4 linked regions of the Homo sapiens genome follow. The protein of the gene in region 1 interacts with the protein of each later gene in a biochemical or structural test. Each region holds a gene or a part of one and is shown in the gene's direction. Other genes may lie near its edges. The genes, in order: UBE2E2, RNF111, SPEN and ARIH1.

Evidence for each region.
Region 2: the proteins of UBE2E2 (region 1) and RNF111 form a complex in vitro, tested with the Homo sapiens proteins (one study listed by BioGRID).
Region 3: the proteins of UBE2E2 (region 1) and SPEN form a complex in vitro, tested with the Homo sapiens proteins (one study listed by BioGRID).
Region 4: the proteins of UBE2E2 (region 1) and ARIH1 form a complex in vitro, tested with the Homo sapiens proteins (one study listed by BioGRID).

Annotation. Positions count from the first base shown.
Region 1 is NC_000003.12:23,584,325-23,591,349, forward strand, and holds part of UBE2E2 (ubiquitin-conjugating enzyme E2 E2), read left to right. Parts: intron 1-5,409; coding exon 5,410-5,507; 3' UTR 5,508-7,025.
Region 2 is NC_000015.10:59,025,650-59,032,674, forward strand, and holds part of RNF111 (E3 ubiquitin-protein ligase Arkadia), read left to right. Parts: intron 1-5,154; coding exon of another isoform or gene 5,155-5,173; coding exon 5,174-6,053; intron 6,054-7,025. UniProt on the Homo sapiens protein: E3 ubiquitin-protein ligase. Required for mesoderm patterning during embryonic development. Acts as an enhancer of the transcriptional responses of the SMAD2/SMAD3 effectors, which are activated downstream of BMP.
Region 3 is NC_000001.11:15,843,015-15,850,711, forward strand, and holds the start of SPEN (msx2-interacting protein), read left to right. Parts: upstream 1-4,692; 5' UTR 4,693-5,053; coding exon 5,054-5,136; intron 5,137-7,697. UniProt on the Homo sapiens protein: May serve as a nuclear matrix platform that organizes and integrates transcriptional responses. In osteoblasts, supports transcription activation: synergizes with RUNX2 to enhance FGFR2-mediated activation of the osteocalcin FGF-responsive element (OCFRE).
Region 4 is NC_000015.10:72,596,313-72,603,337, forward strand, and holds the end of ARIH1 (E3 ubiquitin-protein ligase ARIH1), read left to right. Parts: 3' UTR 1-6,675; downstream 6,676-7,025. UniProt on the Homo sapiens protein: E3 ubiquitin-protein ligase, which catalyzes ubiquitination of target proteins together with ubiquitin-conjugating enzyme E2 UBE2L3.

The DNA of each region.
Region 1 (7,025 bases):
TTGAGGATTTTTGCATCTACATCCATCGATCCCTTTTAGTCTTGTTCCCTGTCTCTGTCCTCCCTTTTCTAGGTGGGACTATAAACCCTTTGGCTTCCAGGGTACCCAGTGTAGCTCCATCCATTAAAGAGGCAAGGTGGGAGTTGTCTGAGCCTTTTTCCTCTAGAATCAAAGGTGCACATACCACAGATCTCAAAAAATGCGAAGAGGTAGATTACGCAATATGACAATCTTTTTTTTTTTTTCTGGAAAGACGGTCTCGCTCTTTCGCCCAGCTGGAGTACAGTGGCGCAATCATGGCTCACTGTAATCACGACCCCCTGGGCTCCAGTGAACCTCCTACCTCAGCCTCCCAAGAAGCTGGGACCACAGGTACATGCCACCACACCCAGCTGTTTTTTGTTTTTTTTTTTTTTTTTTTTTTTTTGTAGAGATGGGTTCTCACTGTGTTGCCCAGGCTTGGTCTCAAACTCCTCGGCTCAGGCCATCCTCCTGCCTCAACCTCCCAAAGTGCTGAGATTACAGGCATGAGCCGCTGTGCCCAGTTGGTATGACAGTCTTTCACTCGCTTGCAAATAATAGTGATTGTTAGTTGACAGGTATGTACTCTTTGCTTCTAAATTGTGTAGGGAGACAGAGGTGAGATAGAGGAAGTAGAGGTGAGTAAGAAGAAGGTATGTTCCCCTTCATCAGTGATCTTGCAGTCTTACGCTTTCATTCAGGTTATTATTTTATGACTGGTATTTTGTTAACAAAAATGCCATGATGCTGGCTTGGAGCAGCGGCTCATCCTGTAATCGCACCACTTTTGGAGGCCAAGGTGGGAGGACACTTGAAGCTAGGAATTTAAGACCAGCCTGGGCAACATCTGCCGTCTCTACCAAAAAAAATAAATCAATAAACTGGACATGCTACTGTGTGCCTGTAGTCCCAGCTACTCAAGAAGTTGAGGCAGGAGGATTGCTTGAGCCCAGGGGTCAAGGCTGCAGTGAGCTATGATCCCACCACTGCACTCCAGCCAGGGCAACAGAGTGAGACCCTGTCTCAAAAAAAAAAAAAAAAAAAGACATGATTTTTATTAAACAGATGAGGAAATGTGATTTAGAGGAAAGCTTTGTATACCTAACTTCCATCTCTATGATATTCTGTTAACCACACTGTAGATCCTATACTTCTGCCTCAGGAAACCTCTAATACATGCCGTACTGGTGTTTGGGAGAATTAAGTACTTGAAGTCATCTAACTCTGTTCTGCATAAGTCTGAACATGCTCCTCTTTTCAAAAGTGTAAATAATTTTTGAACAAAAACAGAAAATGTGGGAGGCTTTGATTTCAATTTACTTATCTACTGATAAATTTTGTGGCTTTTCTTTAGTAAAAATGAGGAAAACTGACAGATGATAATCTCAAATATTAATAAAGATTTGGGAAAATAGTAACAATCTAGAAACCCAAAATGATGGGAAATATTTTCTTCTTGTTAGAGAAATAGGGTACAGTAATTTATGTTTGGAGCCTGGCTTGGATGGCAGAGTGAAACTGTCTCAACAAAAAAAAAAAATTATTTGGTTGATAACATGTTTTTTTTTTTTATTACCTTTTAGTGTTGCTAAATTCATGACTTTTATTTACCATTTATTAAGTTTAACATTCTGCTAAGAAACAGTATTTTCAGACTTTCACATTGAAAAGTCCTCCCTTAATTAAGCATATACAATTTACCATTTTCAGCAGAGATCCATTTTCACAACTAGCTCTTCAGGATTATTCCACTGAGCTGAATCTTTATGTGCAGCATATGAAAAAGTAGTTTGTAGCCTTTTTCTCCTTTCATGAAATATTAGCTTAAACATCAGCACTGCTACTGGGGGTAATATTCAGAAAATCATAGGGACATGTAAATTGATATGAGAAGATAGTTACTATGTTGAATAGAATTTTAAGTGAACATCAAATACTAATTGTTAGTGGTCTTTTTTATTTTTTTAGAAACAGAGTCTTGCTCTGTCACCCAGGCTGGAGTGTGGTGGCATGATCACAGCTCACTGTAGTCTTAAACTTCTGGGCTCAAGCGATCCTCCCACCTCAGCCTCTCAAGTAGGCTGGACTACAGGGGCACACCACCACACCTGGCTAATTTTTGTTATTTTTTTGTGGAGTTGGGGGTCTCAGTGTGTTGCCCAGGCTGGTCTTGAACTCCTGGCCTCAAGCTGTCCTCCACCCTCAGACTCCCAAAGTGCTGGGATTACAGACGTGAGCCATCTGACCCAGCCAATAACATGATTTTTTTAATTCCTTCATTGTGTATTTTTACTTTATCCCTTCATTTTATACTTTAAACAAATTTAAGATTTGTATAACTTCCAAAGATGCATGCATGGTAATGGTCCTCACATCGTTGTTTTTAAAACAAAAGTTGGAGAGTACCCAAACATCTAAAAACAGGAAATTCGTTCTTAATTCAGGTATTAGAAATGATGAAGTAGATCTACAATTATCTATGTAAAAAGTTATTTACCATATCGGTATAAAAATCATAGTTATTTTTTAAAAGATTACAAAAGCAGACTATAAATTAATCCCTTTTTTTTTTTTTACATCATGTGATTAGAAGTGTAGGAAGAAAACATACCACGATGTTAACAGCAGTTTTCTTTGCGTGGATTTATACACGAGATGGTCTTTACTTTCAACTTCCTGTCTTGCATATTGTCTGAGGTGGTTTTCTAAATTATTATTAATTACTGTTTTATAGTTAGTGTGTATAATTTTACAGGTGGAAAAAAAATTTTTTAATCAAATTTGAAAACGTAAAAGAACCTTGAAAGCAATTAAATGTTAAGCATGCAAAAAAAAGTTTGCACAACGCACGCTAATTGTTACCAGCACTCTAACTTGTTTTTAATTGTTTCTCCTTTTGCCTGTACTGAAATACTATTAACAGTTGATATGACACATTTTCCCACCCCACAGCTTCTTGTTCCCTTTATTCTTCATTTGTTTCCCTCCACCCCCTTTGAGCTGAAGTGGCAGACCTGTCTTATTCCCAGTGTGTACACTCTGGATGTGGGTACAGTTTGAGGTGGAACATATAAGTCAGTGTTATTCTTCTGACATTGAGCCTTACCTTCATCAGTAAGTTAGAATGGATCTTCAATGTGTTTCACTAATATAAGTTCTATTTAATTAAACACCTATCTTGAGTGATACAGACTTAAACTATTAAGGATGCCCACGTTTCACCCTACTCTTTGCATTCTAGAATGCCAGGAATCAGAACAAGATTACTTTTTTTGAAGGTAGAGAAATGTGACTCAGATTTCACTTTGGCCCCTATTACTCTAATGTCATTACTTAAGCTCAAGTGAAAGGCTACATTTTTAAAAAAGTATCCTGGCCAATTGCCAGATATTTTGTGTCTGTATTTGGTAGTGCTGGTTTAAATCTTGTTGAATCTTGACTGGACTGGGTGAAATGGTAGAGTTTTCATTTCAACATCTGAGAAAATGAAGAAGAATCACAAAGAGTAGGCAGAGAGGCAAACGTTTCGAACAAACCCACATACTAAGTAGTCTACTAATTGTGATATAAGTGAATGTAGGAAACTGGCTTCTCCCTGGAATAATTATTACGAGATTTACACAATTCCAGGAAAACTTAAGCAAGTCTTGTTGAGCAGGCTTTCAAAGGCTTTGTTATCATGAGCTTCAGCAGATAGGTTAAAAAGTGGTGTTTCTATTATACCTTTCATATTGAGAACATATGACCATGAGTGCCTTACAAGGTTAGTCTCAGGATCTTCCCAAGTTGCCGGTGGTGTTGGGCCACAGACGTAGTTCCATATTCTCTACTATTTTTTTCCTACCAAACATTAGCTTTTGATGATTTTTCTCATTTTCCCTAGTGGATCCTCCTTACCTGACTGCTCTAATATACCCAAATTCCCAATACCAAAAATAGGGGAAATATAAATCGGGGAAAGAGTGAAATTAGAGAATTGGAGGGAAAAGAGTAGAATCTGGGATCTTTAGGAACCTAAGTTACTTTTTTTTTAATTGCTTTGCTTTTTGTTTTTTTGTTTTTTTGTTTTTTTTTTTTTGTCTTTTTTTTTAAAGAGGGTCTCACTCTGTCACCCAGGCTGGTATGTGGTGGCACGATCATAGCTCACTACAGACTCAAACTCCTGGACTCAAGCGATCCTGCTGCCTCAGCCTCTTAAAGTGCTAATATTACAAGCATGAGCCACCGTGCCCCAATTTTTTTAATTAAACGTTGACCCAATCAATATTCTGGATAGAGAGCTATCTCCCAGCACCCTGTTAAGTTAAGCACCCTGTTAACTAACAGCACCCTGTTAGTTAAGAGGGTGAACTCTGGCTCCAAGCCCTGCTCCACCCCTTTCTCCACGTTGGGCAAGAGACTCAGCCTCCTTATGCTCCAATTTCCTCCTGTGTCAGCTCCTTAGAAATCCATGTCATTAACATATTAGAGTTTTAGGACATGGTTAGTCATGGTGAGTGTTAGCTATTATTAACATCTATTAGTATTTTTGTAATAATGAGCTATGTAGGTTGGATGTTACCAAATTTTGAGGAAGAAGTGGACCATCTCTCCCCTCTTTTGACTGTCCAGCTCAGACTCTGGCGTCTCCTCAGATAAGGTAATCTGGCAGGAGAATGCCACCTGCCTGTGGTGCTAGCCTAGGGTAAGGAGTTGTCCAGACCGCCAAACGTCTTCCCAGGAGAGCTCATCAAGAGCCCATGAGTCCCCTGCCCACAGCCCACCTGCATTTTCTCCGTGAAATATCTACTTGAAGACAGGCATCTCACACCTGTAATCCCAGCACTTTGGGAGGCTGAGGCAGGAGGATAACTTGAGCCCAGGAGTTTGAGACTATCCTGGACAACATAGTGAGACCCCCAAAATTACAAAAAAAAATTTGAAAATTAGCCAGGTGTTGTTGCACACACCTGTGGTCCCAGCTACTCAGGAGGCTGAGGCAGGAGGAGGATTGCTTGATCCCAGGAGGTCAAGGCTACACTGAGCTGTGATCATGCCACTGCACTCTAGCCTGAGTGACAGAGCAACACCCTGTCTCAAAAGAAAAAAAAAAAAACCAATACGAGGGGAGCAAGGTGAGAAGTATGTGGTGGGTACAGGGAAAGAGAATAAGACTTGTCAAGAAATATGACAAGAGCTATCAGTAAAATACAGATAGGTGACTCTTGGGGCAGCTGGTGTGAAATGTAGTCTGTCAGCAGCAGGTGACTGGCTCAGCCGCAGCAATGGTGGTCCAGGTTAGAACAGCAGCTTCTCATCTCCTACCCTCCCACTCCTTGCCAGCTTTCTGAACACTTCTTCCCCCACAGTGCTGGTATTTACTGACTCCCAACTCTGCTTTCCTTGCAGCTGACCCTCTGGTGGGCAGCATCGCCACACAGTACATGACCAACAGAGCAGAGCATGACCGGATGGCCAGACAGTGGACCAAGCGGTACGCCACATAGGGGCCTGCTGCCTGCCGCCCCGCGGGACCTGTGCAAGCACATTCACCAAGTGCATCGGTAGCCCTGCCCACCCCTCCAGACCTCGGTTCTTATTTTCCTATTTTTATTAAATTTGGAACCATTTTGTGATGGTATGTTGTCCATCTTCCCATCCCAGTTCTTCCTGCCCCCCTTCCTCTCTCCCACGCTCTCTTTTATCTCTCATTTTATTCCCTTGTTGATTTCTGTTAACTTGAAAGATTTGGGATTTTTTCCCACCTCATCATAGATGGGAACTTTTGTTTTCAGTGCAAACAATGTTGGAGCTGTAATAGTAAGAGCTTTCTTACAAAGCTTTGTATTACTGTGTGGTTTTGTTTTTTTTGTTGTTGTTTATTTGATTTTGATTTTTTTTTCTTTTATGTGATCTTTGGGAAAACACATTCAGAATTATATCTCGTTTCTACTTAAATGTAGTGCTTAGGGTTAATTTTTTGTACTGAAGTCTTTATTGGTGGGTGCATGCTACTGGGAACAAGTTTTTGTACAAAAGCTTCAATCAGAATCACTGTGCATTACTGAGACTCTGTTTATCACTAGCCTTCTGTCCCTCCCGCAGAAGACTGTTGGATTGAACAAAATAATATGTATTTTGATTTACTTAAAGTGCTTGTAAATTTCTTAGGGACCTGCCACTTTTGACTGTGGATCAGTTGATGTACACTTGTATTATTAAAGCACTCAATAAATCACTGTGGCTGATAACTGCACTTCTGGTAACCCGACATTTGCTTTGTGTCCTGGTGACCGCTGTAGCCCTACGTGCAGTGAGGCTTGTCTAATTCAATTACAGGTTCAAGTGTATTTTTCATCTCAAACCTCTAATATTTCTTTGGAGTTGAGTTGCTTAGCATGTGGAATTTCTCCAGCTGTCAGTAGCCTGATGATTTTATGGTTGTTATAGTAAATTGCTATCATTTTACATATTGACTGGGCATTCTTTCTGTTACAGCCTTCTTTATCAACAATTAAAATATGTAACTCCAAAAATAGCCTTCTTGTGAAAGTGAAGTCTGAGCTAATCATTGTGTTCAGCCACTTTCAACTTTATTTCTCTCAAAATTGTTACAGTGATTGCCCTCAAGCTTTGTATTGTTCATTTTTGTTGTTGTTGTTGTTGTTGTTGCTGCTCTTTTTTCTCCATGATTTTAGCAAAAGAAGTAAACTCAACTGTATTGGTCACGGTCAGCCCATTCAATGACAAGGGTGTCTGTCTGGCTTCACCTTCAGGCTATTTTAGTGTGCAGCTATAGGAGGCAGAGGAAACGTGGGTGGTGTAGTTTCTAAAACACGCTGACTTGCTGATTGATAATTCAGGGTTATTAGTGTAACAAAGCGTAGTGGAAACTCCTACTCCTGCTGCACCATACAGTTACAGACCCTACCATACTCTTGGTCTCATTTAAGGAACCATTAACACCTTCACTGCTGAAAAGCAGGATTTATAAGCATAAGTCATCCACCTCTAAATATTTTAAC
Region 2 (7,025 bases), on another chromosome or scaffold:
ATGGTAGACATATTTCTAGTTGATTTTCTGATAATCTCTAAAACTTTTGTAGAAAAATGCCAAGTCATCTATGGCTTTTTTTTTTTCTTTTTTCTTTTGTGTCGGAATTTTGCTCTTGTCTCCCAGGCTGGAGTGCAATGGCGCGATCTCGGCTCACCGCAACCGCTGCCTTGCGGATTCAAGCGATTCTCCTGCCTCAGCCTCCCGAGTAGCTGGGATTACAGGCATGTGCCACCACGCCTGGCTAACTTTGCATTTTTGGTGGAGACGGGTTTTTTCCATGTTGGTCAGGCTGGTCTCGAACTCCCAACCTCAGGTGATCTGCCTGCCTTAGCCGCCCAAAGTGCTGGGATTACAGGCGTGAGCCACTGTGCCCGGCCGGCTTTTTTTTTTTCTTTTAAAATCTTATTTCTTTAGAGTCATGTAAGCAATCATTACATTTTTATTTAAAGTTGAAACAAGTATTCATATTTATAATTGGTGGTGAAGCATCATACCAATAATAGTGTATCACAGTTTAGAAGTAGAGTTCCTCAGAGTTGTATGGATAGTCTTAATGGGTTTTTCCTCCTTTTGCTCACATAAACTTGTTTATGATGTGAATTACTAAATCCCAACCCTAATTTTTAGTTTTGAAAGTTAGTATTTTTTTTTAGCTATCGTATTTTCTTAGTGCAAGGTTTACTAATAGTGGTGTATTCTACACTAGTATCAGGAGTAATTAGCATGCAGTCATCATGACATAGCAATGAAATGATTGGATCGATCTACACAAAGAGGGACTAGTATTATGGTTTCAGTATTGAAACAGTGTGTAACAGCAAGCCATTTATAATGTCACCAAGGAGATATATCTTGTACGCATTTGCCTCCTTTGTAAATTAGATCAGCCAATAATTTTTACAAAAATAAAAGACTAGAATATGGTTTTATCAAACAGCAAATAATTTAGAATATTATCTGTTATATTTGCTGCTTTTTAAGTTAAATGCAATACTTGTGTTTATTTCCTTTTGAACTTTCCTCTTCTAAGTTCAAAATACAGCCTGATACAATTACAGGGATGGATTTTAGAAAAAAAAATTTAGAACATGATACAATACAGCGATGGATTTTAGAAAAAAAAATAGTATGAATTACTCCCTGGGTGGGAACCTCTTAGTTATATGGGATATTAATTTTGCATTTAATGACTGCATGATATGTTAACTCAGAGAAGAGTTAACTGGTGTACAAACACACACCACAGCATACACCAAACCACCCCCCCTTGCTCTCCTCTACCCTTGTCTCATTGGACAGACTAAACTGATCAAAAATCAGAGCAGATTTAACCATAAAGAGTTGATTGCATTGTTTTGGCTTTGGGACATGAAATGATGGAAAAGAAATTGGGTTTAGTTAATTGTGCTGTGAATTGCTTCTTTGTAAATTAATGTATGGCTGCATGTTCTCAGAATTTGTCTGGTTTTTGGCAAGTTTTCATTGCTTCTCATGATCTCCATTATCAACATGAGGACTTAGTAATTACGGATGAGGAGTCTAATTTTTAAATCTTCAGCCCATAAAGACTCCAAGATCTCCTCCTCTGAAATCCACCAGAACATAACTCTGACATGGGTTTCTGGAAGAACCCCAGCTGTTTCCAACATACATCATGAGACTTCTGTTGCTGATGGAGTCTCTGATGCCTAGAAATCTTGATACTTTTCCTCTTGACTTTTTCACTTTTTTTAAACCTCTTGACTTTCTGGCAGGAGTTTTATTGAGATTTTATTTCACTGGGTTTTTAGTATATTCACAGAGTTGAATAGCTGGCACCACAATCAGTTGTAGAACATTTTCAGTTCACTGAAAATAAAAGAAATTCTATACCTTTTTTTCTTTTTTTTTTTGGGAGACAGAGTCTTGCTCTGTTGCCCAGGCTGGAGTGCAATGGCGCAATCTCGGCTCACTGCAACCTATGTCTCCTGGGTTCAAGCGATTCTGCTGCGTCAGCCTCCTGAGTAGCTGGGATTACAGGTGCCTGCCACCATGCCTGGCTAATTTTTGTATTTTTAGTAAGACAGGGTTTCTTTTCACCATGTTGGTCAGGCTGGTCTCAAACTCCTAACCTCAGGTGATCCACCCGCTTCAGCCTCCCAAAGTGGTGGGATTACAGGCGTGAGCCACTGCACCTGGCCCACCTTTTTTTTTTTTTTTCCCCACTCTTGTTGTCCAAGCTGGAGTGCAGTGGTGTGATCTCAGCTCACTACAACCTCTGCCTCCCTGGTTCAAGCAATTCTCCTGCCTCAGCCTCCTGAGTAGCTGGGATTACAGGTGCACGCCACCATGCCCGGATAATTTTTTGTATTTTTAGTAGAGATGGGGTTTCACCATGTTGGCCAGGCTGGCCTCGAACTCCTGACCTCAGGTGATCTGCCCGCCTCGGCCTCCCAAAGTGTAGGGTTTGGCCACCGCGCCTGGCCAGAAACTCCATGCTTTTCGGCCATCATAGTTGAATCCTCCGATGATCCCCAGCCCTAGGTAACCACATTCTATCTATGTAGATTTGCCTATTCCAGACATTCCATATAAAGGGAATCTTACATTATGTTATCTTTTTGACTGGTTTCTTTTACTTAGCATATTGTTTATCCATGTTGTAGCTTGAGTCAGTATGGTAGTCTGCGCCCCTGTCCAAGGGGAAACCATTCTGAGTCCCCCAGTGGATGCCTGAAACCATATAGTGTTTTTTTTTTCATATACCTACATGCCTATGATAAAGTTTAATTTATAAATTAGGCAGAATAAGAGACTAACAACAACAATAAAGTAGCAAAATTCTAACAACATACTGTGATAAAACTTATGTGAATGTGGTCTCTCTCTCATAGTGTGAGTAACTGAAGCTGTGGAAAGTTAAACTGGATAGTGAGGGACTACCGTACTTCATTTCTTTCTATTGCTGAGTAATAATCTTTTGTATGGATTTATTTATTCATCAGTTGATTGGCATTTGTGTTCCCACTTTTTTGGCTGTTATGACTAATGTTGCTGTTTATAAGTTTTTTTATGAATATGTGTTTTCATTTCTCTTGGGTACATACCTAGGAGTGGAAATGCTAGGTCACATAGCAATTTTGTGTTTAATTTTTTTTTTTTTCTTGAGATAGAGTCTTGCTCTGTTGCTCAAGCTGGACTGTAGCGGTGCAGTCCCAGCTCACTGTAACCTCTGCCTCCCAGGTTCAAGCGATTCTCATGCTTCAGCCTCCCAAGTAGCTGGGATTACAGTCAGTGCGCCACTATCCTGGCTAATTTTTGTATTTTTAGTAGAGATGGGGTTTCACCATGTTGGCCAGGCTGATCTCGAACTCCTGGCCTCCAGTGATCCGCCCGCCTTGGCCTCCCAAAGTGGTGGGATTACAGACATGAGCCACCGCGCCCAGCTTGTATTTAATTTTTGAGGATCTGCTAGACCGCTTCCCAAAGTAGCTTGTATCATTTTACATTTCCATCAGCAATATATGAGGGTTCCAATGTTTTTTTTTTATGCATCCTCTCTAACACTTGTTATTACCTGTGTTCTTTATTACAGCCATCCTGTTTGGCCCCATTCAACTCTTAGATCACATGTACCTGTGTTTTATCATTGTGACTTCTGTGTTCTTGCCTTTAATTAAAGTGATCCTTGTCTGACTGGCTGCCTTCTGTAATTTGCTCATTGCCATGCTCATGTTCACTCATCTTTGTATTCCTGGTTTATCACTGATCCTGCTGAACTACAGATAGCGCGTGATGGCTGATCTTGGATACAGCACTGCCTGTGCTTGTGAATAAGAATAAAAGAAGATAGTGGTTTTGATAGCTTTCTGTAGGAATAGGTCATTCTATGCCTTAATTATTGTCATTTGTTCTGATAGTAAAGTTATATACTATAGTAACATGGGAGACCTGTAAGATTATATATTTCTGTAACCCATTTGTAGAGAGGGAAAATACTTGCTTACTAAACAGCTGTTGTACTCGCTTTTTAGGAACTGGTTTCAAAATGTATTTTATGGGCAAAACAAATCTGTGGTGTCAGAAGTTACAATAGTGGTTAACAGTTTGGTGGGCTGTAGTAATGGGAAGAAGATTTCTAGGGTGCTGGTTATGTTGTTTATCTGTGTGCCAGTTACATAGAGGTGTTCATTTTTTTAGTGTTCATTCATCTATAAACTTAGAATATGTGTGTATGCTATACTTAATAAAAACTTGTTAAAAATATGTTAACATTGTTTATTCATGTTTTGCACTAGTAAAGCTCTTCATTTGTCACATTTACTGCCTTTCTGATTAATATATTTCATTTTGAGTCATGATATTTACTATTACATTATTTTCATATGTACATTGCATTGATGTAAATGCTTTAAATTCAGATCTCTTTTTGGCAGCTCGTAATTTAAGATGTTGAATGATTTAGATAGATTAGCTGTACAAAGTTTGATTTTATGTTCTGCTGTATTGTTTATTTAACTGAATGATCTTCAGCAGCCCACAGTCTTGGCTCTAATCTTTTTGTATTTAAAACTGAAATGCAGTAGTTGTGTCTACTATCAGGAGAATTCAGATTCTCATTAGAGAATTAATAGAGTAGTATGAAGGAAAAAAAATAGAAAAGAGAAGCTTATATTCATTAGCTCATTATTAATAATATCAATCTAATGTAGTAACCATCTAGATGTACAGAAACATTTAATAATAACCACTTAAAAATGTCATACCAGGAGTAAAACATGTTGACTAATTAGTCTTTTGAATTCGAATCCTTTTATTTATATTTCACTGAAATAGGTTTTGAAGTAATTGTTTGATTTGACCAAATATGTTTTGTTGCTGAAGGTAGTGAGATATGCAATAAGATCAGTTTTTGGTTAATAGAAGTTTTTAAGTAGGCTTATGCTCTATATCTACTGTATTTCTAAAAATTGGATGCATGAGTAGAGTGACCAGAGAAAAACGTTTTATAAGAATAGTAAAATAATTCATAACAGACATTTTGTGTACTGATGAGGAAAAGACAGTTCTGCCTTTATAAGGGATCTTCTTGGTGGAATTTGAGAACTCTTCAATTAAATAGTATAATAAAACACATTAAAAATCTTTTAAATATCTAATTTTGTCTTCTAGGCTTTCCTTAAAGTTTCCCATGTCTCAATGGACTCCTGAATATAACGAGCTCTACACCTTAAAAGTGGATATGAAGAGTGAGATTCCTTCTGATGCACCAAAGACACAGGAGAGTCTGAAAGGGATCCTTTTGCATCCAGAGCCCATTGGGGCAGCCAAAAGTTTTCCTGCAGGAGTTGAGATGATTAATAGTAAAGTGGGGAATGAATTCTCTCACCTGTGTGATGATTCTCAAAAGCAAGAGAAGGAAATGAATGGTAACCAGCAAGAACAAGAAAAAAGTCTCGTTGTGAGGAAAAAACGCAAAAGCCAGCAGGCTGGCCCTTCGTATGTGCAGAATTGTGTTAAAGAAAACCAGGGAATATTAGGACTGAGGCAACACCTAGGGACACCAAGTGATGAAGATAATGATTCCTCTTTTAGTGATTGTCTTTCTTCTCCTTCATCTAGTCTGCATTTTGGAGATTCTGATACTGTGACTTCAGATGAGGATAAAGAAGTCTCTGTAAGACATTCCCAGACCATTTTGAATGCTAAAAGTAGAAGCCATAGTGCACGGTCTCATAAGTGGCCTCGGACTGAGACAGAATCTGTATCGGGATTGTTAATGAAAAGACCCTGTTTACATGGCAGTTCGTTACGGAGACTTCCATGCAGAAAGAGATTTGTAAAAAATAATTCCTCACAGAGGACACAGAAACAAAAAGAGAGGATATTAATGCAGAGGAAGAAACGAGAAGTGTTAGCTCGAAGAAAATATGCCTTGCTACCTAGTTCTAGTAGTTCCAGTGAGAATGACCTCAGCAGTGAATCCTCTTCTAGCTCATCAACTGAAGGAGAAGAAGATTTGTTTGTTTCTGCCAGTGAAAACCACCAAAACAATCCAGCTGTTCCCTCAGGTAAAAATGTTTAAGCTGAGTAAAACATGGAACCTATTGCATTGCATTTGTGCTTAATTTTTTGTTTGTGTCTTACTGATTTTATTTAAAGGGACTATCAGGTTCTATTAACTTTTATTTTTAAGTCATATAAATTACCAATTGCAGTATTAAACCATGACTCTAATGCTAAGATAAAAATTTAAAAAATTTCTAGTGACAAAAATAAGTCAGAGTTTTTTGGGAGAATAACCCTTCATTACTTTTTTTTTTCTGAAACAGAGTCTCACTTTGTCACCCAGGCTGGAGTGCAGTGGCGCAATCTCGGCTCACTGCAACCTCCGCCTCCTGGGTTCAAGCAATTCTCCTGCGTCAGCCTCCCAAGTAGCCAGGATTACAGGTGCCCACCACCATGCCCAGCTAATTTTTGTATTTTTAGTGGAGACGGGGTTTCACTATGTTGAACAGGCTAGTCTTGAGCTCCTGATCTCAAATTATCTGCCCACCTCAGCCTCCCAAAGTGATGGGATTACAGGCATGAGCCACTGTACCTGGCCTCATTTATTACATTTTATACATATTAGATTATATTTTATGTATGTTCTTCATTTATGGTACACATTTTTTTCCTTGTGTTTCTTTAATATGCTTGACTGTTATGAATACTTTTTCAGCTACCTGTATGATGGATTCAGCCATAGTAAGAACAGTTCTAGTCACTAAAAAAGACTGGTTAATTTTTTTTCCTTTGTTTTTTTGAGGCAGCATCTGGCTTTGTTGCTCAGGCTGGAGTATAGTGATGCAGTCTTGGTTCACTGCAACCTTCACCTCCTGGGCTGAAGCCGTCCTCCCACGTCAGCGCCTCAAGTAGCTGGGACTACAGGCCCACACCACCACACCTGGCTTATTTTTGTATTTTTTGTAGAGATGGGTTTTGCCAAGTTGCCCAGGTTGGTCTTGAACTCCTTAGCTCAGGCGATCCACCTGCCTTGG
Region 3 (7,697 bases), on another chromosome or scaffold:
TTGCAGTGAGCTGAGGTGGCACCATTGTACTCCAGCCTGGGCGACAGAGCAAGACTCCATCTCAAAAGAAAAAAAGAAGAATTTTTTTTATATTTTATATATATTTTATTTTATTTTTATATTTTGGGCTGGGCGCAGTGGCTCACACTTGTAATCCCAGCACTTTGGAAGGCCTAGGCAGGTGGATCACTTGAGGTCAGTGTTTCGAGATCAGCCTGGCCAACATGGTGAAAACCCATCTCTACTAAAAACACAAAAATTAGCCGGGCGTGGTAGCAGGCACCTGTAGTCCCAGCTACTCAGGAGGCTGAAGCACAAGAATCTCTTGAACCTGGAAGGTGGAGGTTGTAGTGACCCCAGATCACGCCACTGCACTCCAGCCTGGGCAACAGAGCAAGACTGTCTCAAAATAAAAAAAGAAGAAATGCATATATATATATTTTTTTCTTTTTTTTTTTTTTGAGACAGAGTCTCGCTCTGTTGCCCAGGCTGGAGTGCAGTGGCGTGATCTGGGCTCACTGCAACCTCTGCTTCCCGGGTTCAAGCGATTCTCCTGCCTCAGCCTCCCGAGTAGCTGAGACTACAGGTGCATACCACCATGCCCGGCTAATTTTTTGTATTTTTAGTAGAGATGGGTTTTCACTGTGTTAGCCAGGATGGTCTTGATCTCCTGACCTTATGATCGGCCTCCCAGAGTGCTGGGATTACAGGCGTGAGCCACCAGGCCCGGCCAAAATGCTTATATTTTAAGTGCATGTTTTCTCCTGAAACAGCTTAATTTTAATAGCTTGGGACCTGACTTGTAACCAAATTCTTGTTAAAATCTGATAACTATCCTGTCCTGTTTAAATGGAGATATTATTTTACTACTCTACTGGCTGGGTTAGCATTCAAAGCCTGAGTTGGAGGCTCAGACGCTTTTTCCATCTGAGCTTTCATTACGCATGACTGAACTCTTTGAGCATGTCTAGCATGCTAAATACAGCAGCTCCTCACAGTGTGAAAATAAAACCTGATTAAAAACAAATCTATTTTAATTCCACTTTGCAAATGGCTCTGCTTTAATGTCAGCTTTCTGAATTATCTTTAGTAATCAAATGAGGAAATTCACTTCACCATCCGTTTATCATAGATAAATCACAACCTACTTTTTGATCTTTTTCAGTGAGCATCAATTATTGTTAAATAAAAAAACATCAGAGAATAACAGAGTGGGTTGCCTTTCTATTGAAAACATAACAAAGATACATGCTTTAAAGAAGTTCTGCCCCTGTAAAGCTTTGTAACAGGAATACAAATGGAGAAAAGCTTTTCTGGTGTTTTTTGATGCATTGTCAGCAAAAATGAAAAGCACTGAGAAAATCAAAAACTTGATTTGGGGCTGAGCAAAGGGCATGTACTTATCAGTTTTGTTATTAAGAGCTTTTGCAATAGAAACAGTCAACCAAAAAAAAAAAAAAGCAAGAAACTTCATACTTGACATGCAATCACTATATCCTGATTTGACTACAGGACCTGGCTATAATGGTGAAAATGGTTTTTTTTTTTTTTTTTTTTTTTTGAGACTGAGTCTCACTCTGTCGCTCAGGCTGGAGTGCAGTGGCACGATCTCGGCTCACTGTAACCTCTGCCTCCCGGGTTCAAGTGATTCTCCTGCCTCAGCCTCTCGAGTAGCTGGGATTACAGGTGAGCACCACCACGCCAGGCTAATTTTTGTATTTTTAGTAGAGGCCAGGTTTCACCACGTTGGCCAGGCTGGTCTTGATCCCCTGGCCTTAGGTGATCCGTCCATCTCAGCCTCCCAAAGTGCTGGGATTATAGGCGTGAGCCACCGCACCCGGCTCTTTTTTTTTTTTTTTTAAAATCATGATTTTAACAGAAGCCTCCATTCAAGGCGAGACATGCCTTTTATTTCTCTAATTGCGAGACACTTTTCTGAATCCTCTTGTCAGTTGCACCTTTTAATACAATTGAGGTGACACTGTTCTTCATGGTGACACTGGTCTTTCCCAAGAGGTTTCAGCTAATTCAGTCTATCAGATTTTACATCAGATTTTAAAATTTGCTTCAAACTTGGGTGCTTGTATTCAAATTCATGCTTCATAGAAAAATGCATATCAGTTCAACAGTTGACTAACTGCAGCCACGTTCACAGTACTGAATAGTTCATGAGTTTCGTTAGTAGGGTGTTAGCTTGACTTTCCTTATGTGATAATTGTGACAGAGAAATGGCCAGATGTAAATAGCCAATTTTACTTTTTTTTTTCTTTTTTTAAGAGAGGGGTTTCTCCTATGTTGCTGAGGCTGGAGTGCTGGGGCTTTTCAAGGCACAATCATAGTGCACTACAGCTTGGAACTCCTGGACTCAGATGATGCTTCTGCCTTAGCCTCTCCAGTAGCTGAGACTACAAAGAAACAATTTAGTTATGCATAGGTGACCTGAGATATTAGTGCCATTGGTTTTGGTGACAATATTTTCGAATTCAAATAGTGTCGTTTGTAAGTTAGTTTGTATTTAAGGAGATAATCGATGAGGCCAAGTATTTAAAATTGGCTGGGCTGGTGGTTCATGCCTGTAATACCAGCACTTTGGAAGGCTGAGGTGGGCAGATCACCAGGTCAAGAGATCGAAACCATCCTGGATAGCATGGTGAAACCCCGCCTCTACTAAACGTAAAAAAATTACCTGGGCGTGGTGGTTTGCGCCTGTAGTCCCAGCTACTTGGGAGGCTGAGGCAGGAGAATTGCTTGAACCCGGGAGACGGAGGATGCAGTAAGCAGAGATGGTACCACTTCACTCCAGCCTGGTGACAGAGTGAGACTGCGTCTCCAAAAAAAAAAAAAAAAAAAAAAAAAAAATCTGGCTTGCACCTGAAGCAGCACACCTCTGGTATTTCTGTGTATTTTTATTATAAATAATTTTATTTTTCTCTCGATATAGTTACCTTAATTTTATGGGTTTTCCTTGAATTTCTGTAAATTGGCCTTTATATAAAAGTTCAACTGGCCGGGCATGGTGGCTCACGCCTGTAATCCCAGCACTTTGGGAGGCCAAGGTGGGCAGATCACCTGAGGTCAGGAGTTCAAGACCAGCCTGGCCAACATGGTGAAACCCCGTCTTTACTAAGAATACAAAAAACTAGCCTGGTGTGGTGGTGCGCGCCTGTAATTCCAGCTACTCGGAAGGCTGACGCAGGAGAATCGCTTGAACCTGGGAGGCGGAGGTTGCAGTGAGCTGAGACAGCGCCATTGTGCCCCAGCTTGGCTAACAAGAGTGAAACTTGGTCTCAGGAAAAAAAAAAAAAAAGAGGCTGGGCGTGGTGGCTCAAGCCTGTAATCCCAGCACTTTGGGAGGCTTGAGGCGGGTGGATTACCTGAGGTTGTGAGTTCGAGGCCAGCTTGACCAACACAGAGAAACTGTCTCTACTAAAAATACAAAAATTAGCCGGGCATGGTGGCGCATGCCTGTAATCCCAGCTACTCAGGAGGCTGAAGCAGGAGAATCGCTTGAACCCAGGAGACAGAGGTTGCAGTAAGCCGAGAACACACCATTGCACTCCAGCCTGGGCAACAAAAGCAAAACTCCGTCTCAAAGGAAAAAAAAAAAAAAAGAAAGTTCAACTGTAGGTTTCAAAAGCTCTTAGGCCTGGAAAGGCCAGAGGTCTAATTCCTTTCTCTGTTTAAATATTAAATTATGGTCTGAGGGGAACAATATTGGATTCCTGTCTCATTTCCGTTTTATTCCTTCTATACCACAGCGATCAGCAAGGGTATCTTGCAAACGGTTTCGCAAGATTCTATATAAAAAAGTTGCTTAGGCCAGGTGCAGTGACTCCCGCCTGTACTCCCAGTACTTTAGGAGGCCGAGGCGGGCGGATCACCTGAGGTCAGGAGTTCAAGACCAGCCTGGCCTACATGGTGAAACCCTGTCTCTAATAAAAATACAAAAATTAGCCAGGTGTGGTTGCGGGTGCTTGTAATCCCAGCTACTTGGGAGGCTGAGGCAGGAGAATCGCTTGAGTCTGGGAGGCGGAGATTGCAGTGAGCCGAGACCGTGCCACTGCACTCCAGCAGCCTGGGCAACAGAGCGAGACCCCGTATTAAAAAAAAAAAAGTTGCTTCATGTTACAAGCCAGTGACTCTTGGATGGGATGCGTTTCTGAAGCCGTCGCTGTTCAGCAGAGCGGTGAGAAGGGCAACCTTTTTCTGATCGCTTTCCCAAGCAGGCAGGAATCTAAGTGTCCGGAAACGCCAGGAGCTGGCCGCCAGGTGAGCGGAGGACGAAGGGGTCCTGACTTCTAGGGGACAGGCCTTGGCAGCCGCTTTGACCCGTAGCCCTGTGGAAACCAATTGCATTTCTCTTCATATCTTCCACCAGGCCGGGGCCTGGGGTTGCCGCTGGAGGGGCTAAAGACCGCTCCTGCTTCCTCAGCCGCCCCTTGCCCGGCGCGGGAACCCGACCGAGAGCCCGCCAAGCAGCGGGACTCCACTAGCAGCTGCGCGCCTGCGCACCGGGGCCGAGCGCGCGAGCGTTCCTTCCCCGCCTGTAGTCCCTCACTTCGTCGCCCGGTCCGCGCGCCTGCGCGCCGGCTGGGAGGAACTCAGCTTCTCCGCCTTGGCAGGCGGGAGGACGCGCGCGCGCCCGCGGCGAGGGGGAGGCAGTGCGGCGGCGGGAGTCGGGCCGCGCGCGCCAGTGGGAAGCGTCCGGCTGCCACAGCGCCAGCTCCGTCGTAGTCGCTGCCGCCCGTGTCCCGCTCGCCCCTCCTCCCGCTCCCCCGCCCGCCCCTGCCCGGGCGCATGCGCTGCCGGAGCGCGAGGGTCGGCTTCGGGTGTGTGGTGGCGGCAGAGCTGAGCTGCGAGGCCCGAGAGTCAGAACCTGGGGGAGAGGGATGGTCTCTGCACGGGGGGGAGCCGGAGGAGCCGCCGCCGCTGCCGACGCCACCGCCGCAGCCGCCGCCGCCGCCGCCCCGGCACCCGCCTCCCGGCGCTGACGGTCTCGTACGAAGCCGGCGAGGGGGAGCCAGCAGCGGCGGTCGCCGGCACGCCGCCCAGCATGGTCCGGGAAACCAGGCATCTCTGGGTGGGCAACTTACCCGAGAACGTGCGGGAAGAGAAGATCATCGAGCATTTCAAACGGTGAGTGACACGAGGCCCGCGGCCGCGCTCGCTCCTCGGGCGCCGCTTCCCGCCCCGGCCCGTTGCCGGCCCCTCCCGGAGCGCGGAGCTGGTGAGGAGGACTCCGGCCCGGACCCACGGGCGCTGTGGGACCTCGTCAGCCGCTCGGCCCGCGTCGCGGCGTTGGGCCTCGGGTGTCGGCGGTGCGGGCGGCCAAGCCGCGCCGCCTTCGAAGAGCCCGCGGGGCCCCGGCGGCCGCGTCCGTGACGAGGGAGGTGACCGAGGCTCGGCCTCCACGCAGCCGGCGCCCCGGGGCTGCCCTCGCGTCAGCCCGGGAGTCGGTGGGAGATGCGCTGGGCGGCGGGGTCGCGTCCTTGCGCGCAGTGCCCGGCCCGGAGCAGCCGGGACCCGAGCCCGCCCGACAGCCGGGTCCGGCGCCGCCACTCCAAGCTGCTCTGCGGGCGCTCGGCAATGTCTGACTTCGGGAGGGTTCCGTGCGAAGGGAAAGGCGGTGCGAAAACAGAAGTCGCAGTAGGTACTGTGGTCGCGTCGCGGACCCGGAGAGACCATCTAGGACCTCTCCGGAGGATTTGCAGCCTTGAAACTCACTGGGAATGGCAAACGTTTCTCGTTTTTGCGGGGCTGGGTGGAGAGTGGTGTGAAATAAGTTGGTGCGCCCGTTTGGGCTTCCTCGTCCCCGGCGGAGGAGACCGCGTCTGACAGGAGGTTGCTAGCCCCGGCGCCCGTAGCCTCGGGTCGCACTCCCAGGCCGCCCTAAGACCCTGGTGCCCCCCACCCCTGAATTCCCGAATCAAACGGTAAAACATTCCAAACCTTTTACGATGAGAAGATGTAGCTTAAAAAAAAAACCTCCCCTGAATATTTTTGTGAATTATAAGAATAAATGTTGTCGTTGATACATCTTATTGAGTAGCGTGTAGTGCGTTTTCTTTGTGAAATGCCTGTGTACCGTAACAGATAGGCCTCCGCATAAAACACTTATTAAAATGACGATTGGCTTGGACTTGGTGCAGATTCAGAGGGACCATAGCAAATCTGTGGTTGTCCTCGAAAATGACAGTTTATTCCGATATTTAAGACCCTGGAAGGTTTTAAGTTTGGCTTTTAATTTCCCTTACTATGTAGTGAGTGAAGGAAATTATGGAGCGTCCTCATTAATGAGTCACCATGGGAAAAATAGATTGCGTCGCTCGCTTTGAGCCGCTTGGATAAGGAAATGGAAGCAGCGGCGGCGGAGCTCCTGTCTTTTAAATGGAGGATCATTGATTGTGTTGGTGGTTGCTGTTACTGGGGCATTAAACCCTCGCCGCTGGAGCGCGCGTCTGCGCGTGTCCGCGTGTGAAAAGGAGCCGGGAATCGTGGGGCCATTCATAACCTGCTTGAGCTGTCCTCGGCAGGCCGGGGGGAGGTGCGCGCTTCCAGGGACTCTCCCGGTGTTTACTACGTCGTGCCTGAGAAACCAGGCGGGGGCGGGGGGAGGCAGGGAGCAAAAATTCACCTCTGTGCCCTAGGATGAAGGGGAGACCACGGGCTGGATTGGGAAGCAGATGGGAACTTTCTCTTCCTGGCGCTGCTCCACCCCTTACCCGCCCCCCACCTCCTGGCTTCTCCTCGAGTATCGTCAGTGTTTTGATGGAAAAATCATTTAGGTGTACATTATTGGAGTGGAAAAACCACTTAGATGTGCTCACTTTAATCCCCTGTGGACTTTCTCTGTAGGTCTCTGCCTGGGAAATTCGTATGCACCGATGTACAAGCACGTGCATTGCAGCATTCGCTCGCTCCTCAGTGTTATGTGCCTAGACGTGTCATTTCTCATTATGCAGATTCCAGAGACATTGCATGCTTATGGCTGGGAGTTTGGCCCCTCTGCAAGATGAGGGGGCAGAGAGAAGAAAGAGGAAATCGTCCCAGGCAGCTTTGGAAGGGTTCTTAGTGGACGGTGCTGCGGTCTGGCTTGTGTGAATGACTTTCTAAAATGGCGGCCAGGACCCACTTTATGTGGGAATCAGCAGAGCCGATCTCAGAATGCACAGAGGGAGGAGGGGGCGGAGGATTCGAGCTGCCTTGGAAAGCGGCAGTCTGGAGGAACATTACTGTATTAAAAACGGCTTAGCTGGCAGTTTGCTCACGACTGCATTCAAAGGAGTATCTTACCTATTGCAGAGTAAAAGCAGATGCTACTGATAAAAGCAGGTTATTTTAAAACTAAGCAGATCATGTGTCCCTGAAATTCTTTTATTTTAAAGGTTTTTTTTTTTCATTTTTAAACAAATCTATTTAGTTGTTTAAATAGACAGTACATTTTTATGGGTTCAAAGCATGTGAAAGGTATACAGAGAAAAATCTCCACCCCTGACCCTGGAATTCCCAGTTGCCACACTTCCTCCCCTCACCCCCCAAAATCCAGGTAATGTCTATTTCTGGTTTCTTGTTTATCTTTCTGCATGTACAAGAAATGTTCCTGCTGATCCAGCTGTGGAGCTAAGTGGACCTTGTTTGGAGGAACTCAAGGCCTTTTATCCCTATTGTGGGATATATTTTGTAAAATGTGTGATTGC
Region 4 (7,025 bases), on another chromosome or scaffold:
AGAAGTCATTCATCATTTTAATTTTTATTTCCTTTCCGTAATGTGTGGTTGTTCTCAATGGCTGCATCTGTGCATTATATTTACTTTTCAGTAGATTGACTAGGGAATGTCTAGGTATGTTTTTCTTTGTATAGAGTTTACTGAACTTCTTGGATCTGTGTTGATGTCTTTCATTAATATTGGTTCTTTCTTGGCCGTTATCCGTTTACATTTTTCTCTTGTCTCATACTCTCTTGCTTCTCCTCTTCTTTGGAGATTCTAGTTACATGTATATTAGATGATTTGATATAAACCTACAGATCTCAGATGATTTTTCCCCTGCCCTGTTTTCTTTTTGTTTTCAGTTTGGATACTTTCCATTTAACCATCTTTAAGTTTTTTGATGCTTTCCAATGTTAACCTGTTAAACTTGTTTATTGAATTCTCCATTTAAAAATTTTTATTTTTAGTTATTTATGGATACATAGTTGTACTGAATTATTCATTTCTAATATTTTTATTTCTAGCATTTCATTATATTTGTATAGTTACAATTTTCTGCTGAAATTTCCTATTTCTTCATGCATGTTTTCCACATTTTCCATTCTACTTTTTAGCATTTTAATCAGTTATTTTATTGGGTTTTTTCTGTTTTTTCTTTCATTTTTAATCAGTTATTTTAAGGATCCAAACTGATAATTCAACATCTGGGTCTTTTCTAGTTCTGCTTCTATTGAGCCCTTCCTCTCCCTTACCATGAATCTTATTTTCTTGCTTTTGCACGTCTTGTATATTTGATTGGATGATGGACGTTTTATGTTGAAAAAAAAAAGAAATTGAAGAAAATGTTTACTTCCAAAACAGAGCATGCCCTTTGTTTTTTTTTCAGGCCACTTGAATGGTGGCTCAATCTGATGTATATGAATTCTAGACTGGGGCTTCACTGCAGTTTTAGTTTGATTCAGTTTGCCTCTAGCTTCAAATATTTGAAGGAACGTAGAATCAGAACTCTCATATCACCAGGGCCTGAGTTTTGGGCATTGGCAAGATTCCAGAGATCTGACTTTGCTTCATAGCTAAGCCACCAGCTTTTATCAATGTGGGAGATCTTTCCCTACTTTACAACCTTGCTGCCAGGATTTTTTTTTTTAATCAATGGGCTGGGGATAGGAGGATCTTTCTCAGCTCTCATGTGTGCCCTGCCCTTTTGTAGAGGAATGCCCACAATGCCTAGGGGATGGGTTTCTCAGCATTTCTGACCCCATTTAGGCTCCAAGAGTGCCTCTGTTGGATTTCACAACAATCCTGCCTCCCCTTTCATTTTTAAAGGGTATTTTGCCCTTGGGAGAAGTCAAGCTCTCTCAGCGTTCCTTCTATTATCCACACCTTTAGTGTACTACACCTTCCTGTACCTGGTTATCATCTAAGGGGTAAGATTGGTGGGAAGCCTTCCTCTGTGGATTTGGGTCATCTAGGTTCTAATGTCAAACCAGCCTCCAAGGGGTTGTGAAAATGTTGTTAAATTTCAGCAGGTTTCTCTTTTCTCCCCCCTGTAGTATTCCTCTTCCTACCATAGTTCAACTAGGAATAACAACAGCTAGGGGGTCTCTTCTCTCCTATGAAGGACTTGGCACTTTCTGGAGTTTGGATCATTTAGGTTTCTTTGGTTTTTGTTTTTATTTTGAGACAGGGTCTCACTCTTACCCAGCCTGGAGTACAGCCTGTAGTGATCTCAGCTCACTACAACCTCTGCCTTCCTGGCTCAGTTGATCCTCCCACCTCAGCCTCCTGAGCAGCTGGGACTACAGGCGTGTACCACCACACCCGGCTAATTTTTGTATTTTTTGTTGAGATAGGGTTTTACCATGTTGCCCAGGCTGATCTCAAACTTCTGAGCTCAAGCGATCTGCCTGCCTCAGCACCCCAAAGTCCTGGGGTTACAGGCATAAACCACTGCACCCAACCTAGATTTCTTTGTGTCCTTAGCTTTCTGATGAATTAAACATATGTTTTATTTTCTAGCTCATCTGGCCTTTTGTTGTTGTTTGCTAGAGTGGGAGGTATATTCCTTGTGACTTTGTTCATATCACTAGTGAATTTCAGAAGTAGGAGTTTATTTTTTTAATAAAAAATTTTTTTAGGTCAGGCACAGTGTCTCATGCCTGTAATCCCAGCACTTTGGGAGGCCGAGGCAGGTGGATCACCTGAGATCAGGAGTTTGAGACCAGCCTGGCCAACATAGTGAAACCCCAACTCTACTAAAAATACTAAAATTAGCCAGGTGTGGTGGTGGGCGCCTGTAATCCCAGCTACTTGAGAGACTGAGTCAGGAGATTTGCTTGAACCTGGGAGGCGGAGGTTGCAGTGAGCCGAGATTGTGCCACTGCACTCCAGCCTGGGTGACAGAGCAAGACTCCCTCTCAAAAAAAAAAAAAAAAATTTTTTTTTAAACACGTCTCACTGCCACCCAGGCTTGAGTGCCATGACATGATCATAGCTCACTGCTGGCTTGACCTTCTGGGCTCAAGTGATCCTCTTGCCTCAGCCTCTTGAGTAGCTGGGACCACAGTCATGTGCCACCATGCCTGGCTTTTTTTTTTTTGTAGAGTTTGGGTCTCGCTATGTTGCCTGTGATCCTCCCACCTTGGTTTTCCAAAGTGCTGGGATTAAAGGCATGAGCCACCATGCCTGGTTAGGAATGGGAGTTTAAACAATGGTTTTATTTACATATTTCATTAGCTAGTATTTTTTTCTTTTTTGAGACAGAGTCTGGCTCTGTTGCCCAGGCTGGAGTGCAGTGGCACGATCTAGGCTCATTGCAACCTCTGCCTCGTGATTCTCGTGACTCAGCCTCCTGAGTAGCTGGGATTACAGGCGCCCGCCACCACACCCAGCTAATTTTTGTATTTTTAGTAGAGACAGGGTTTCACCATGTTGGCCAGGTTGGTCTCCAACTCCTGACCTCAGTTGATCCACCCGCCTCAGCCTCCCAAAGTGCTGGGATTACAGGTGTGAGCCATCGCTCCTGGCCTCATTAACTGTTTTCAAAAGTAAAAGTACATGGATAATACAAAGTTAAATTTTGTAGAATCATAAAGAAAAGCAACACCTTCCCATCTTAACTCCCCTAGTGCCTCTACTCCCTCCACAGAGACAAATATCTTACCAGTTGGTTGTGTTTTCTTTTCCAAACTGTATTTCTAAAATGTGTCAATATCTCTTCCTTTTATTTTTTATTTTTTGTAGAGACAGGGGTCTCACTGTGCTGCCTAGGCTGGTCTCAAACTCCTGGCCTCCTACCTCGACTTCTCATAGTTCTGGCGTGAGCTACTGCACCTGGCCTCCCCCTTATTATTTTTTTAAACATGAATGGAAGCATACTATATTTTCTACACTTTATTTGTTTTATGTAACTATTTTAACAACCTGAGGACTTTTACAGGCTGCATAATATGTCTTAATATGGATGTATCTTAGTTTATTTAAACAGTTACTGGTGATGGACATTTCCATGTTTCCAGTATTTTTTCTCACAAACAATGCAGTATTATGCCTTTGTCCACATTCACCATTGATTGCTATTGAGTATATCTGTAGCATCAAGAATAGGCATACTGAAAATCCTCCATGAAGTCCAGTGAAGCTTCATATTATTTTGAAGTGATATTTCCCAGTGTTGGCTGGACTCTCAAGCGTTTGTGGTATAGGTTTTGGGAGGACTGGACACTTCCAAAGAGAAATAAGATGTTACAGACTTGTCCAGCAGGTGGCATCAGAACAAAGCTGGCTATGGACCTTGTCAGTACAAATGATAAAACATTAAAAATGTAAAAACTCAACTGTAGCTCCTTGTTTATACATATATTGGGGGTGTTGAAAAGTTACCGATGCCTGATTCCTCTTCTATGTCCTCAGCCCCCACCATAAAAATAGATAAATGCCATTTTTTTTGTATGCCCAGCACAGCTATATGATTTGAATAATCTTGATAAGCAGGGTCACATTTGAGGAGATTTGCTAAGGGAAATGAAGATCCATCTGTGACACAAGAAACATGTTCTATGTGATTTCTGGGATTTTCCTGTGAACATACTTCTTGTTTGTTTGTTTTACAGTGGATCTCACTCTGTCACCCAGGCTGGAGTTCAGTGGTGCAATCATAGCTCACTGCAACCTTGAGCTCCTGGGCTCAGGAGAGCCTCTCTCCTCAGTCTCCCAAGTAGCTAGGACTACAGACACATGCCATCATGCCAGGCTCATTTTAAAATTTTTTGTAGAGACGGGTCTCACTATGTTGCTCAGGCTGGTATTGAACTCCTGGGCTCAAGCAATCCTCCTGCCTCAGCATCTCAAAGTGTTGGGATTACAGGTGTGAACCATAGTATCCAACCTATTATGTTTTTTTAAAAAGAGATTGTTCTAATTATGTATATAATTAAAGTACATTAGGTTTAGTGATTGCAATTTGAGAAACCAATGTCCTTTCTTATTGAAAAAGGCCCTGGTACAGAAAGTGTTCTATCTTCCTCACAAGATCTGAGGTCAAAGGAGAGATTTTGAAACATTATAGCAATGGCTTCTAGTTATTGAATAAAGAATGTCATTTGCTCCTCACAGGACCCCTTTCAGGGAGATTTCACATATTGGGAAACAGCCTCATGAGCTTTCTACAAACATCTTTGTCCTTAAGTCTTCCCATTTCAGTAATTGGCTGTACCACTCATCCAGCAGCTTTCAAAGTAAGAAACCTGGCAATCTTCCTTTAACATCCATTTCCCTTTCCCTCATTCCCCCATATCCAATCATGTGTATTGGAGGTTTTTCCACCTCTAAACTTGAGAACCCATTTACTTTTTCTCCATCTCCTTTGCCATCACACTAGTCCAAGTGAAGTGTTTCATCATCTCATTTGCAGCATCCTTTAGTTTACCCTAGATTATCAATTTTTGTCCCCCTCCCAATTCAGTCTCTACTCATGAGCTAACATGAGTTTATTAAGTGTTCATTCTGACCATGCCATTCCTTGCTCAAAATTCTCTAGTGCCTTCCCAATGCCCTTAAAATAAAATTCCTCATATGGCCTTTGTGGATCTGCACTCCTACCTCTTCTCCTATTGCAACCAACCCTGTTACCTTTTTCTCTTTTCACACTGGTCTTCATTCTGTGCTGCAAACTGGCTGAGATTCTTCCATCCTCAGGGCCTTTGCACAAGTTCTTCCTTTGCCTTAGAATTCTTTCCTGGCCTGCACATGTCTTCATCCCCTTTCCCTAAGCTAATGCCTTACCCTTTAGGTCTCATTTTAAACATCTCTTACCCAGGAAAAATTTCCCTGTCCAAACAAGTCTAGATTGGCTCCCCATTGTTTGTTCTAACTGTTCTATATTTCTCCTTCTTAGCATTTATCACAATTCTTGGTATGTTGTGCTTTTCACTTTCTTAGTCGCTATTATTGGAGTAGGTAATACATCCATATAGTACAAAATTCAAAATGTATTAAAGGTATAGAGTAAAAAGTCTTCTCTTCCCTGTCCCCCCGCTACCCAGTTCTCCTCTTTAGAACCACTTTTAGCATTTTGAATATCCTTCCAGAAATATTTTCTAAGTATACAAGCAATTATGTATATAATATTCCTCTTTATTTTTGCCTTTTTATTAATACAGATACTATATGCATTTTCTGCACTTTATCTGTTAATAATATATCTTGGCAATTATTCAATATTAATATGTAAATAGTTGCCTCTTTCTTTTTCATGCGCCATATAATATGGACTTATAATTTATTTAACCTCTATCTAGGTTGGTTTTAGGCATTGGTTATTACAAATAATGCTGCATTGAATACCTTTGTATGTAAAGTCATTTCCCACATCTATGCCTATAGAATAAATTACTAGAATTGAAATAATTCAGTTAAAGATTATGTGCATTTTTAATTTTGGTAGTTATTGCCAAACTGCTCTCAATGGAAGTTTTATGAATTCCCACTAGTGAATGCATTTGTCCTCACAATTATGTCAGTGAAATTTTTGTTCTTTGCCAATGCAAGAAATGGAAAGTATCTCTTGGAAACTAATTTGCATGTTTTTTTTCCTTGCACAGTTATATTTTCATATGTTAAAGAGCCATTTGTATTTCTTGGTGAATTGTTCATAAACTTTGCTTACTTATTATCTAATGTCTGACTAATTTGCTACACTCTAAATTCCCAATTCATACTTAAGTCTCGCCCTTGCAATTTAGATGTACAATCTGCCTCTTCAGTGGTTTCCACACCAAAAAATCCACAGGCTCCTGAATTTTATATGGGCCTAAGAGTCTTACTGAAAATTGGAAGTCTTAAGGTGTAGTCTATTTTATGCAGTGTGAGGCCTTTCATGCTCTGAAATGTACCACTCTTGACTGACTTTTTCTTCTTCACCCTGTCCGGCACTGTGCCCTTATTAGCCAGAGAAATGTTCCCCCTTTCTCCCAGGAAACGTTCTGACCTTACCCTGGTCCCTCAAGGACTCTCCTTCTCCCCCAAATTAACTTTCAAGGAGTTTCTCCAACCCAAAATGGCACCCTTCCTGAAAAGATTTCTAGTGGATACTGTTTTCTGTACCTCACTACGGATGTATTTTGCTGCTTGGCTCCCCGTCTCCATTTTGCTATGGCAAACATTTTTTTCCAGAAATATATCAGATAAAATGAACATGTGGTCCCTTTTGTTGATTTTTGTTGGGATCCATGGTATTGATTTCTTCTAGTTTAGATAATTCCACCGTGGCAAGCTTTTATTCCTAGCATAGCGCTCATGAGGAGAATGTTAGTCACTTGGTGTTATTAATGCTAAAATAGTAAACAAGAACACAAAATTTGCTAGATTAGAAGTGGATTTTTTTTCCAGGCTGGGCACAGTGGCTCATGCCTGTAATCCCAGCAGTTTGGGAGGCTGAGGCAGGCAGATTGCTTTGAGCTCACGAATTCGAGACCAGCCTGGGCAACATGGAGAAACCCCGTCTGTACTGGGGCTAATTTTACCAAAAAAACTAGCCAGGTGTG